Linked DNA regions of Homo sapiens: region 1 is linked to region 2. Evidence: fine-mapped expression QTL. A gene starts in region 2. The other region holds a variant in brackets. All regions are shown on one strand. Distances are from middle to middle. Region 1 overlaps ZNF71 (zinc finger protein 71). Region 2 holds the start of SMIM17 (small integral membrane protein 17).

Region 1 (5,368 bases), 21 kb before region 2:
GCCAGGGCAGGTGCGTGATGAGCTAGCGGGAGCCGGAGCCCCAGCCAGGGGAGAGGATCTTGCAGCCAGCAACCCTGGGGCAGCCATACCAGAGAAGTGGCAAAGGGGCAGGAGAAATGCCCGATTTTTCTCTCATTTCACTTCCAGTTTCCTGCCTTTGGCCAAACACACAGGAAGCCAGTGGGCAAAGTCAGCATCCTGAGCACAGGGCAGGTCAGAGAAGGGTGGAGAATAGAAAGTGGGTCGAAGGAGTAGAGAATAACCAACACATGCCATATAAATGCTAGCTATTTATTATTTCTTTATTCTTTTTCTTCTTTTTTCAATATTTATTTATTTATTTATTTTTTAAGAGACAGGGTCTCACCCTGTCACCCATGCTGGAGTGCAGTGACGTGATCATAGCTCACTGCAACCTCGAATTCCTGGGCTCAAGTGATCCTCCCACCTCAGCCTCTCAAGTAGCTGGGACAATAGGCATGTGCCACCATGCCTGGCTAATTTTTAAAAAAAAATTTAGTAGAGGCGGGGGTGGGGGGTCTCACTATGTTGCCCAGGCTGGTCTCAAGCAATCCTTGCCTCAGCCTCCCAAAGTGTTGGGATTACAGGCATGAGCCACTGTGCCTGGCCATCTTATTATTTCTGATAAAAACTGTTGCTTGAGGAGCACGACTGGTTGTGGATCTGCAGGATGAAGTGAGGAGGCCCTGCAAGTCAGTAGCCGGCTGCAGTCATTCCTACTCAGGTTTGCAGAGCCTGCCCTTTGCTCCCTGCAAGCCCAGCTCACTACTGCAGTTTCTCTCCAGGAGTGCCTGTCATCCCTCTTCTGAAGGGACATTTGCTCTCCCTGTTCACCTCCTGTGTTGACTCTGCTTCATAAACCACATTGGCCTCAGTTCCATGCCTCCCTCCTCCCTCCCTCTCTGATCCAAGGTTCTTCTTTGCTAACTCGCTCTGTGCCTTGGGCCTCATTGGGGTCGGTTTCATTTGCTCCTTCCTGCTGTGGAGCTTCCTCACTCCCAGCATCTTTAACTACATGTATTTGCATCTTCTGTTTTTGTTTTTTTCAGACTGGGAGACTAGACCTGAAATGAAAGAGTTGGATCCAAAGAATGACATTTCGGAAGACAAGCTCTCCGTTGTTGGGGAGGCCACGGGGGGACCCACGAGGAATGGTGCCAGGGGTCCTGGCTCAGAAGGAGTGTGGGAACCAGGCAGCTGGCCAGAGAGGCCGCGGGGAGATGCAGGTGCAGAGTGGGAGCCATTGGGAATTCCCCAGGGGAACAAACTCTTAGGGGGCTCAGTACCCGCATGTCATGAACTGAAGGCATTTGCCAACCAAGGCTGTGTCCTGGTCCCACCACGGCTGGACGACCCCACAGAAAAGGGGGCCTGTCCACCCGTAAGGCGTGGCAAGAACTTCTCCAGCACTTCAGACCTCAGTAAGCCCCCCATGCCCTGCGAGGAGAAGAAAACCTACGACTGCAGCGAGTGTGGCAAGGCCTTTAGCCGAAGCTCGTCCCTGATAAAGCACCAAAGGATCCACACGGGAGAAAAGCCGTTTGAGTGTGACACCTGTGGGAAGCACTTCATCGAGCGCTCGTCCCTCACCATCCACCAGCGGGTGCACACGGGCGAGAAGCCCTATGCCTGCGGGGACTGCGGCAAGGCCTTCAGCCAGCGCATGAACCTCACTGTGCACCAGCGCACGCACACGGGCGAGAAGCCGTATGTGTGCGACGTGTGTGGCAAGGCCTTCCGGAAGACTTCCTCTCTCACCCAGCACGAGCGGATCCACACGGGGGAGAAGCCCTACGCGTGCGGGGACTGCGGCAAGGCCTTCAGCCAGAACATGCACCTCATCGTGCACCAGCGCACGCACACCGGGGAGAAGCCGTACGTGTGCCCCGAGTGCGGGCGAGCCTTCAGCCAGAACATGCACCTGACCGAGCACCAGCGCACGCACACCGGGGAGAAGCCGTACGCCTGCAAGGAGTGCGGCAAGGCCTTCAACAAGAGCTCCTCGCTCACCCTGCACCAGAGGAACCACACCGGCGAGAAGCCCTACGTGTGCGGCGAGTGCGGCAAGGCCTTCAGCCAGAGCTCCTACCTCATCCAGCACCAGCGCTTCCACATCGGCGTGAAGCCGTTCGAGTGCAGCGAGTGCGGCAAGGCCTTCAGCAAGAACTCCTCGCTCACGCAGCACCAGCGCATCCACACCGGCGAGAAGCCCTACGAGTGCTACATCTGCAAGAAGCACTTCACGGGGCGCTCGTCCCTCATCGTGCACCAGATCGTGCACACCGGGGAGAAGCCCTACGTGTGCGGCGAGTGCGGCAAGGCCTTCAGCCAGAGCGCCTACCTCATCGAGCACCAGCGGATCCACACCGGCGAGAAGCCGTACAGGTGCGGCCAGTGCGGGAAGTCCTTCATCAAGAACTCCTCCCTCACTGTGCACCAGCGGATCCACACGGGCGAGAAGCCCTACCGATGCGGCGAGTGCGGGAAGACCTTCAGCCGCAACACGAACCTGACGCGCCACCTGCGGATTCACACCTGAGCGCCTCTGTGCAGGGCTCTCACTGGCGGTGCCCAGGACGGACGCCAGATGGCTGCGCGCTTTGTCAGCAGTGCTGTGAGAAGTTCTCCCCTGGGGTGGGGACTCGGGGTCAGGGGAGCTCAGGAATGTGG[G/T]GTTGTGGAGGGGCTGGCTGATCACACATGCCCCCTCCTTACTGAGCCTCAGAAAGCAAGCCCCTCGGTGTCTGACGTATCTGGGGACACTTCAAGGTTCACTGTAGCTGAGCCATGGCCGCTGGTAACAGACATCAGGGTTCCAGACTAGCCCTCTTGAGTAACTGTCCTAGAGCTGGGACAGGTCACGCCTGCCTCCACATCTCTGTTTCTTCAGCGGGAAAGTGGAGCTGGTGGAGGGGAGGGAGGAGACATCTCCCTCTTTGTCAGATACATCCTGGAGTCCAGATGCAGCTTGTCACCATCTGCATTTTCTCCGTGGGTTGGGAGCGTGAGGGCCTTCCTATCCCTCCACCCACCGTTTCCCTGCAGTGCACGCTGGCAGCCACCAAGCTAGGAAGTGGCAGGAGTTTGCCGGTTGTTTGTGAGGGGAAAAATTTTTTTTTCAGAGTTAGCAAATAACAGTAACTACTGCTTTGAATGCCAAAGTTTCTTAGAGTGGTCTGTTACGTTTTTTAAAAATAAAACTTTTAATTAAGGGAGACTATGTTATTTTAAACAGTCTTCTGTTTTGGCCAGTTGTCTGGTCAAAATCGGCTTCAGTGATTGTGGGAGGGGCAAGAAGGAAAAGAAACAGCAGCAGGTTTGATATTCAGAAAGAAATATGCATGGATTCAATAAGTATATACATCTGAGCACAGATTATTTTTATAGTGATTTTTGCAGCTAAATGTGAAGGCAACTGTCTTAAGTCCCTTCCTGCTGCTGTAACAAAAGACCTTAGACTGGGTAATTTATAAACAATAGAAATTTGTCACTCATGGTTCTGGATGCTGGGAAGTCCAAGATCAAGGCTCTGGCAGATTTGGTGTCTGATGGGGTATGTTCTTCATAGGTAGTGCTTGTGTCTTGATGTGTGTCTTCACGTGGTTGTAAACGGCAGACTTCCTCAGGCCCCTTATAAGGGTGCTAATCCCAGTCACAAGGGCCCTGACCTCATGACCTCCCAAAGGTCCTCCCTCTTCATACTGTTACATTGGGGATCAAGTTTCCAATATGTGAATACAGGGAAGCACCAACAGACCATATCAGTAACTTCGAGTGAGTTTCCTAAGGCCGACTGAAGCTCTGTTTACACATAAGAGTGTTCCCCAAAGTGCACTTTCTCTGGGGCCTTTTAGGCCATACTTTTAATTTTGTTATTTGATACTACTGGTTGCTAATGTTCTGGCATTTCCAGTTGTTCCACACTCCCTGACACTGGTGTACACAAATAAATAATACAGAAAAAAAATTATATCAGCAAGCACATTCTGCAAATAAGAAAAACAGCCACTCGGGCACGTATAAACAAGGTGGACCGTTTTTCAAATTCTGGCAGTCAAGTGGGCCTCAGGGTGGGTTTGATTCAGGCTCTCATCATTGGAGCCATAGCTGTGGTTCTCTGTGATGCTCTGGCTCTCCCTTCATACTTCTTAACATCATCCTCAGGCTGGCTTCCCACGTGGGATTGTGGTGGTTTCCAGCAGCGAGTCTTGATCAGACATTGCTTTAGTTGCATCTGTTGTGGGAATAAATGAGAATATGTATGCACTGCAGAGAATGGAGTGTTAAAACAGTCAACAAATGTTAGCTAATATGTACACAAGATTTTACTACTCTTTAGCAGCAAAATGGAGGGGAAGACCTTCTAAGGCCCTTTGGAGAGATGAAATGGCTCATTTAACCCTCACAAGATCCTCGAGGTAGGGATTCATGTGCATGTCGTATAGATAAGGAATCTGAGGTTCAGTGAGGCAAGGTAAGCTTCCTGAGGGCACACAACATGGAAGTGGAGGGGACAGGGTGTGAGCTGGGGTCCACCTGGGCTCCGAGGTCCGTGCTCCTTGCCTACACTGGACTACTTCTAGAGATGGACATATTGAATTTCTCAGGACTTGACTCCTGGCCTTGGTTTCCTGGACTCCCCAGTGTGTGAAGCAGAGATGGGATCGAGGCTGCACCACCACCATCCCCCTCTCCCATCCAGAGAACCAGCCGGGCCACCTCTCAGGTCCCTCCTGTTTCTTTTCTCTGCAACCCAAGCTGATGTGGAGGGCATTGAGGCTCCTCTGGGGGGATGCTGTGGTACCAGGTGGGTCTCACATCCCTGGTCTCCCGCCTCCTGGGCAAGCTCCCCACTCAGGGCTCCACGTTTCCCCAAGAGGAACCCTGAGGTGGCTGGAATAATGGCCACATTGACGGAGTCACTTGTCCAACTCTGAGGGGGCGCTCTCATCACCCCCACTCTACAGATGGGGAAACAGGCTCGCAGAGGTTCAGGCACCTGCCCAAGGTCACACAGCTGCTGGATTCAAACCCATTCTGACTCCAGAAGCTGGACTGCAGTCCACGGCACCACTCCACCCACCAGTTCCTCAGTCAGGTACTTACTGAAGCCAAATTAAATTTACCCCCCTGAAAATGTGGGTTTGGCAGGGATCAAGCAGGTCAGGAACCTGCTTTTTAACAAGTCTTCTATCCCATACATCTGTCCAAGGCACTATTTGGGGTTATGTGCTGGCCTTCGAGTTCACCCTCACTGGGCCCTGTGTCCCTGTGTCCCTGTGTCCCCAGGCCTGACCCAAGCCTGGCCTTGAGGTAGAGGTCATGGGTGCTGGGTGGGGTCTGAATGACC
Region 2 (5,376 bases):
CGGTGAGCCGAGATTGTGCCACTGCACTCCAGTGTGGACAACAAGAACAAAATTCCGTCTCAAAGAAAAAAAAATTTGTTCCCTCAGAATTCTGGGGAAGCCCCTCAAACTTGAGTCCATTTTGAAACAACCATAATTCATCTGGACTATCAGGATCATAACTGGAGATTTTTACCCCATATTGAGGACCTGCTGTTCAATAATTATAATGATAATACCAGTGACATTTACTGAGCACTCAAAATTAGGAGGCATATGTATTAACCTATATGATGTTCACACTAACCCTATGAGGTAGAAAATATTATTGTCCCCATTTTGCAGGTAAGGAAACTGAGACCGAGTTAATTCACTTCCCAAAGTTATACAGCTAGTACATTGTTAGATCTGCATCTGGATGCCCAGTTCCTAACCCTCTCAAGACTCTGTGACCTGGGGCAGCTCACCTGGTCTCCTGCACTAAATGTCTTGTTATCAAAGGAGGTGATGAGGATTGGATGAAATGTCTAATTCTTGACACTTCATCTCTCTTCTCTGCACACTCTGAACTATCTTTGGAATGGCAGGAAACTCATCTTCTAAACATAGAAATGAAGAAAGTTTCCCATCCCAATTACATAACCTATCTGAAAACTCGTAGGCAAACCCAATCTCAGTCCTTCCATAATCTTACTGTGTGTCCTTTGTACAACTCATTTAACTCCTTTGTGCCTCAGTTCTCTTCTCTGTTAAATGGGGATAATAATACTACCACTTTGGGCTGTTGGAATTAAATGAGATAATATTAACGAGATGGCTTTCCTTGTAGTATTTTTTTGATAAATGACAGTTATTTTTGTTTTTCTGAATAACCAGGGTAATTCAATTTTCTATCCATTAGGGAAAGGAGGTTAAATCCTTACCTCATACCATTCAAAAAAATTCCAGAAGGTTCAAACAAAATAAATATATAAAATAAGACTGTAAAATATAAGATTATACAGGAAAATGTGTTTATGAGAGTAAGGGGAGGCCAGGAGAAGTGATTCATGCCTGTAATCCTAGCACTTTGGAAGGCTGAGCTGGGAAGATCAGTTGAGGCCAGGAGTTTGAGACCAGCCTGGGCAACATAGTGAGACCCTGTTTCTACAAAAAATTTAAAAATTAGCCAGGTGTGGTGGCACATGCCTGCAGTCCCAGCTACTCAAGAGGCTGAGGCAAGAGCATCACTTGAGGCCAGGAGTTCAAGGCTGCTGTGAGCTATGATCACACTACTGCACTCCAGCCTGGGTGACAGAGTAAGACCTTGTCTCAAAGAGACAAGGAGGGGGAGGAGGGGCGGGGAAGAGAGGGAGAGACAAGGCTGAGGAAGGGCATCTTAAGACCCTAAAAGCAAAAAATAAATAAATAAATAAAAAGGATATCTTGTATTTTTATTAAAATTCAAAACTTCAGGCACTGTGTAAACACAATAAAAACATAAGGGAGGAGCCAGGAGAAAATATTTGCCACAGATAGAGTAACAGGCAAAGGATTAATGTGCAGAATATAGAAAGAATGTCTATTAATCAGTAAGTAAAAGCTACATAAACAAATAGAACAATGCGGAGAGGAGGAGATAAACGGGTAATTCACAGAAGAGAGAATAAGCCTGTTCAAATACATGTGTTTAATTCTCCTCACTAGTAATCAGGGAAATGTAGCTAAGATGATGCAGGGACGCCGTTTTCCCCCTACCTATGGCTTTGCCGAAAATTTTAAAAATTTAATGTAGCCTCCATGAGAGCAACTTGGCTGTAGTCACTGCATTGTAAATTTGAACAACAATGGTCATTGATAATAATAGCAGCTATTAGGCACTGTTGTAAGAACTGTACGTGTATTACTTATTATTGTTATTATTGTTTTACTTTCACAGAAATCCTGGGACTTGGTAACCATAATTATTCCCACTTAACAGCATGGGCAACCGAGGCACGGAAATGTTAAGTAACACACCCGAGGACTCACTAGTAACAAATGGCAAAGCCAGCCGCTGCCCCAGGCGGTCGGGCCTCAGGGTCCCCGGGCTGCCACCCCCTGCCCCAGCTCCTTCTCCCTTCCGCCCACCCCGGACTCCCGGTTTGCAGACTGGAGAACCACGGGGGGCGTACGCAAAGCCGCTGGCCTTGGGGCGTCTGTCGCAGGGTACCTCGAACATAACCTACGTGCTCATCAGCTAGAGATGGACCAGCTCGGTACCACACCCCCCTGCAACCACGCCGCGGGTACCCCGCCTCTGCGGCTCATCCACTCCCTTCCCCACGCGCCTCCAGGTGCAGGCTTCCCGGGGGTGGAGGAGGGGAGGAGGACACCCACGCTCCCCAATTCCCCCACCTCCCATCTCCCACCTCCCCCCACCCCCCCGCAGCCTCCGCGTCTGCGCAGCCGCAGTCAGTGCGGCGCCAGCTCTGCAGAGCCCAGACAGGGTCCGGTTGGGGAGGGTGAGTCCTTCGAGGGACCCCCGCGGGCGGGAAGGAGGCGGAGAAAAGGGGCTGGGGGCGCGGGCGGCGATCCGGGGATGCGCGCGCGAGTATGGATGCGCAGAGGGTGTGTGTGCCTGGGCGAGGGTGAGGGGCAGAACCGCTCCAGGGATAGGGTCCGGGGAGAGGGCGTCTCCAAGCCCGTCCGGTGGGAGAGGACCGGGGTCTGTCGGGGTCGGGTCTGTTTCTCCGCAGCGGAGGTCTGTGTCCTGGCTTGGGGGTTGCAGGTGAATTCCAGCCTCCTCGTGAGGAGGGGAGCACAGACCTGTGTACCCTCGTGGGGCGGCACGGGCACGTGCGCTCGTCTCGCTGGGGCTTGGTGTCGATGTTCGCTCCCCCTGGGGTGTTCAGCGCACCTGCCCGAGTGTGCACCTGTGCGTGTTCGCGTTGTGTGTCCGCCTGGGCCCCTGTGGACCACCCTGCAACGGTGGGAGCGCAGGCTCTCAGCAAACAGGTGCAGCAGCCCCGCCCCCACTCTTCTGAGCTGTGTGGCTTTGATCAGGGGACTTCCCTGTCTGTTAAATGGAAACCTAATAGTATCTGTAGCGAGAAGTATGGCCACCTTTATGTGAGAAAAGGGATTCGCAGGGCTCAGCAGGGCTGGGCACAAGGAGAGTTCTGGGCTCCGGGAAACACTGCCGGTATTTTTATTGCTTTTACTGTGGTTGCTGGTTGTCGTTGTTGTGACTGCGTCTCCATTCTCTCAGGGGATGACTTGTTTGCTATTTCACCATGAACACTGAGGCTGTGGGGTGTGAATCTCCTCCCCCCACCATACCTCTGTCTCATCCCCTTTCCTTCTTCCTCCTCCATTCACTGCGGATCCAGCTTCTCCTGACCTTGACCTGATGGCTGTCGTCTTTCCCATCTGTCACCCCGCTTGCCTGCATTTTCTCCTTTCTCATGCCTTCCCCTCCCCTCAACCTAGATCCATGATTAATTATGTCTCATATTAAAAACAAAGCCAAGCAAAACCCCAAAGCAATAAACAAATCAGAACTCCCTAATGGTACTCTCTAACACTCTTTCCCACGAAGGTCCCATAGGAATTTTCTTGCCCTGAAAAATGTCTAGGCAGCCTCCTCTCCTCACTCCCAACAGACTCCCCGGCCCACACTGAGGTTGCAAATGGGCAACCCCAGGGTCTAATTCAGCCCCACAACTTGTGCTATTTGACTAAAGGTGTCTTCCTGTTAAACACTGGAAATAATTATTGACATCATGAAATGTAGAAAATGCCATCTGAAAATATAGATTTCCAGTCTTCTTTTGAGAAATCACAGGATGGGCGACACCAGTCCCATGCGTTTGCTCTGCAGACATTAGCTGAGTTGCATGGTGCAGCTTCTTCAGACAGGAGACCTGATCTCTCTTGCCCCACTCCCCACTGCCTCCGTCGTCTCTCCCCATGCCATATATCCACTGCCATTTGTTCATGTGCTCCTTACAATAGAGAAGTATTTCTCTGGACCTATATTTAATTTTCATTTGTAGAAAAGTGACAGTAAAAGAGTCCTCTTGATTGACTCATTGATTGATTTTTGAGAGAGTCTTTCTCTCTTACCCAGGCTGGAGTGCAGTGGCACGATCCTAGCTCACTGAAGCCTTGAACTCCCAGGTTCAAAGGATCCTTCCAATATCTGAGACTACAGGCTCGTGACACCACACCTGGCTAATTTTTAAACTCCTGGGCTCAAGCAACCCTCCCACCTTGGTCTCCCAAAGTGCTAGGATTACAGGTGTGAGCCACCTCGCCTGGCTGATTTATTTATTAATTCATGTCGTTTCCTATCCCATTTGTTATATACAAATGTGCAGACTGGAGAATCATGTGTGGCTGTAGGTGTGTATATGAGTATGTGAGTGTGTATGTGTGTGAGTATGAATGTGAGTGTGTGTGACTGTGAGTGTGTATGAGTGTGTGTGTTAGTCTATGTGAGTGTGTGTGAATGTGGATGTGTGTGTGTTTGTGTTTGTGTTAGTGTGTGTGTATGTGACTGTGTGTCTGTGTGTGTGTATGTGTGGATGTGTTTATGTTTGTATGTGTGTATATGGGAGTATGTGAGTGTGTGTGTCTGCATGTGCCTGCCCATGACAATCACTCCCTTTCCAGCTTTGTCTCCAGAGCACCCTCTAGCGTTTGACCTGCTGTGTGCTTTATTTGTTCCCTGCCTGTCTCTTTGTCTCCCTACTAGAATGTAAGCCCCAGGAGGGCAGGAATCTCCACTTGATTACTGCTGTATTTCTAATGCTTACAGTCGTGCCTAGCCCCTGCTGGCCCTCTGTAATGATTCACTGAATGATGAAATGTCCATCAGTCCTCAGGTTCTGAATCTTGTGCCTGGAGAACCAGAGAGGACCCTGGAGCAGGAGGAGAAAGAGAAGCTTGTCTCAGAAGCTCCACCTCCTCCTGGGGCAATGCAGAGTCTCAGGCCTGAGCAGACACGGGGGCTGCTGGAGCCTGAGAGGACCAAGACTCTGCTGCCTCGGGAGAGCCGGGCCTGGGAGAAGCCTCCTCATCCCGCCTGCACCAAAGACTGGGAGGCTGTGGAGGTTGGGGCCTCCAGCCATGACAGTGATGAGAAAGGTGAGAGGCAGGGGTCCTTTGGGAGGTGAGTGGGTGGAGAGGAAGGAATTGGCAGAGCCTAGGGAAAGACTAAACATTCACTCCTTCACTCATCCATTCAACAGCTATTCATGGAGCACTGTGTCAGTCAGCTTTTGCTGTGTAACAAGTCATCCCCAAACTTAGGGGCTTAAAGCAACAATCACTTATCAGCTCATGATTCTGTGGGTCAGAAGTTTGACCTGGCTTCAGGGGACACTTTTCCTGCCTGTGCTTGTCTGTGCAGCCTCAGAGAGCTGGTGAGGCCAC

The links. PIP is the estimated chance that this variant, and not a neighbour inherited with it, causes the effect.
Region 1: its variant is fine-mapped to the expression of SMIM17 in left ventricle (GTEx, PIP 0.98). The same link has a PIP of 0.9 or more in skeletal muscle.

What each region holds. Positions count from the first base shown.
Region 1 is chr19:56,620,198-56,625,565 of GRCh38, forward strand. It overlaps ZNF71 (zinc finger protein 71), which reads left to right. Exons shown (of 4, transcript NM_001370215.1): 4 at 1,071-4,289. The coding sequence ends at 2,560. The region is part of intron 2 of ZNF71-SMIM17 (ZNF71-SMIM17 readthrough (NMD candidate)); the gene reads left to right. Among named protein-coding and RNA genes, the nearest start is that of SMIM17, 20 kb to the right of the region's middle. The variant G/T (reference allele first, on the strand shown) is at 2,692.
Region 2 is chr19:56,640,749-56,646,124 of GRCh38, forward strand. It overlaps SMIM17 (small integral membrane protein 17), which reads left to right and starts at 2,411. Exons shown (of 4, transcript NM_001193628.2): 1 at 2,411-2,462; 2 at 4,820-5,088. The coding sequence starts at 4,920. ZNF71-SMIM17 (ZNF71-SMIM17 readthrough (NMD candidate)) reads left to right here. Exons shown (of 5, transcript NR_163263.1): 3 at 4,820-5,088.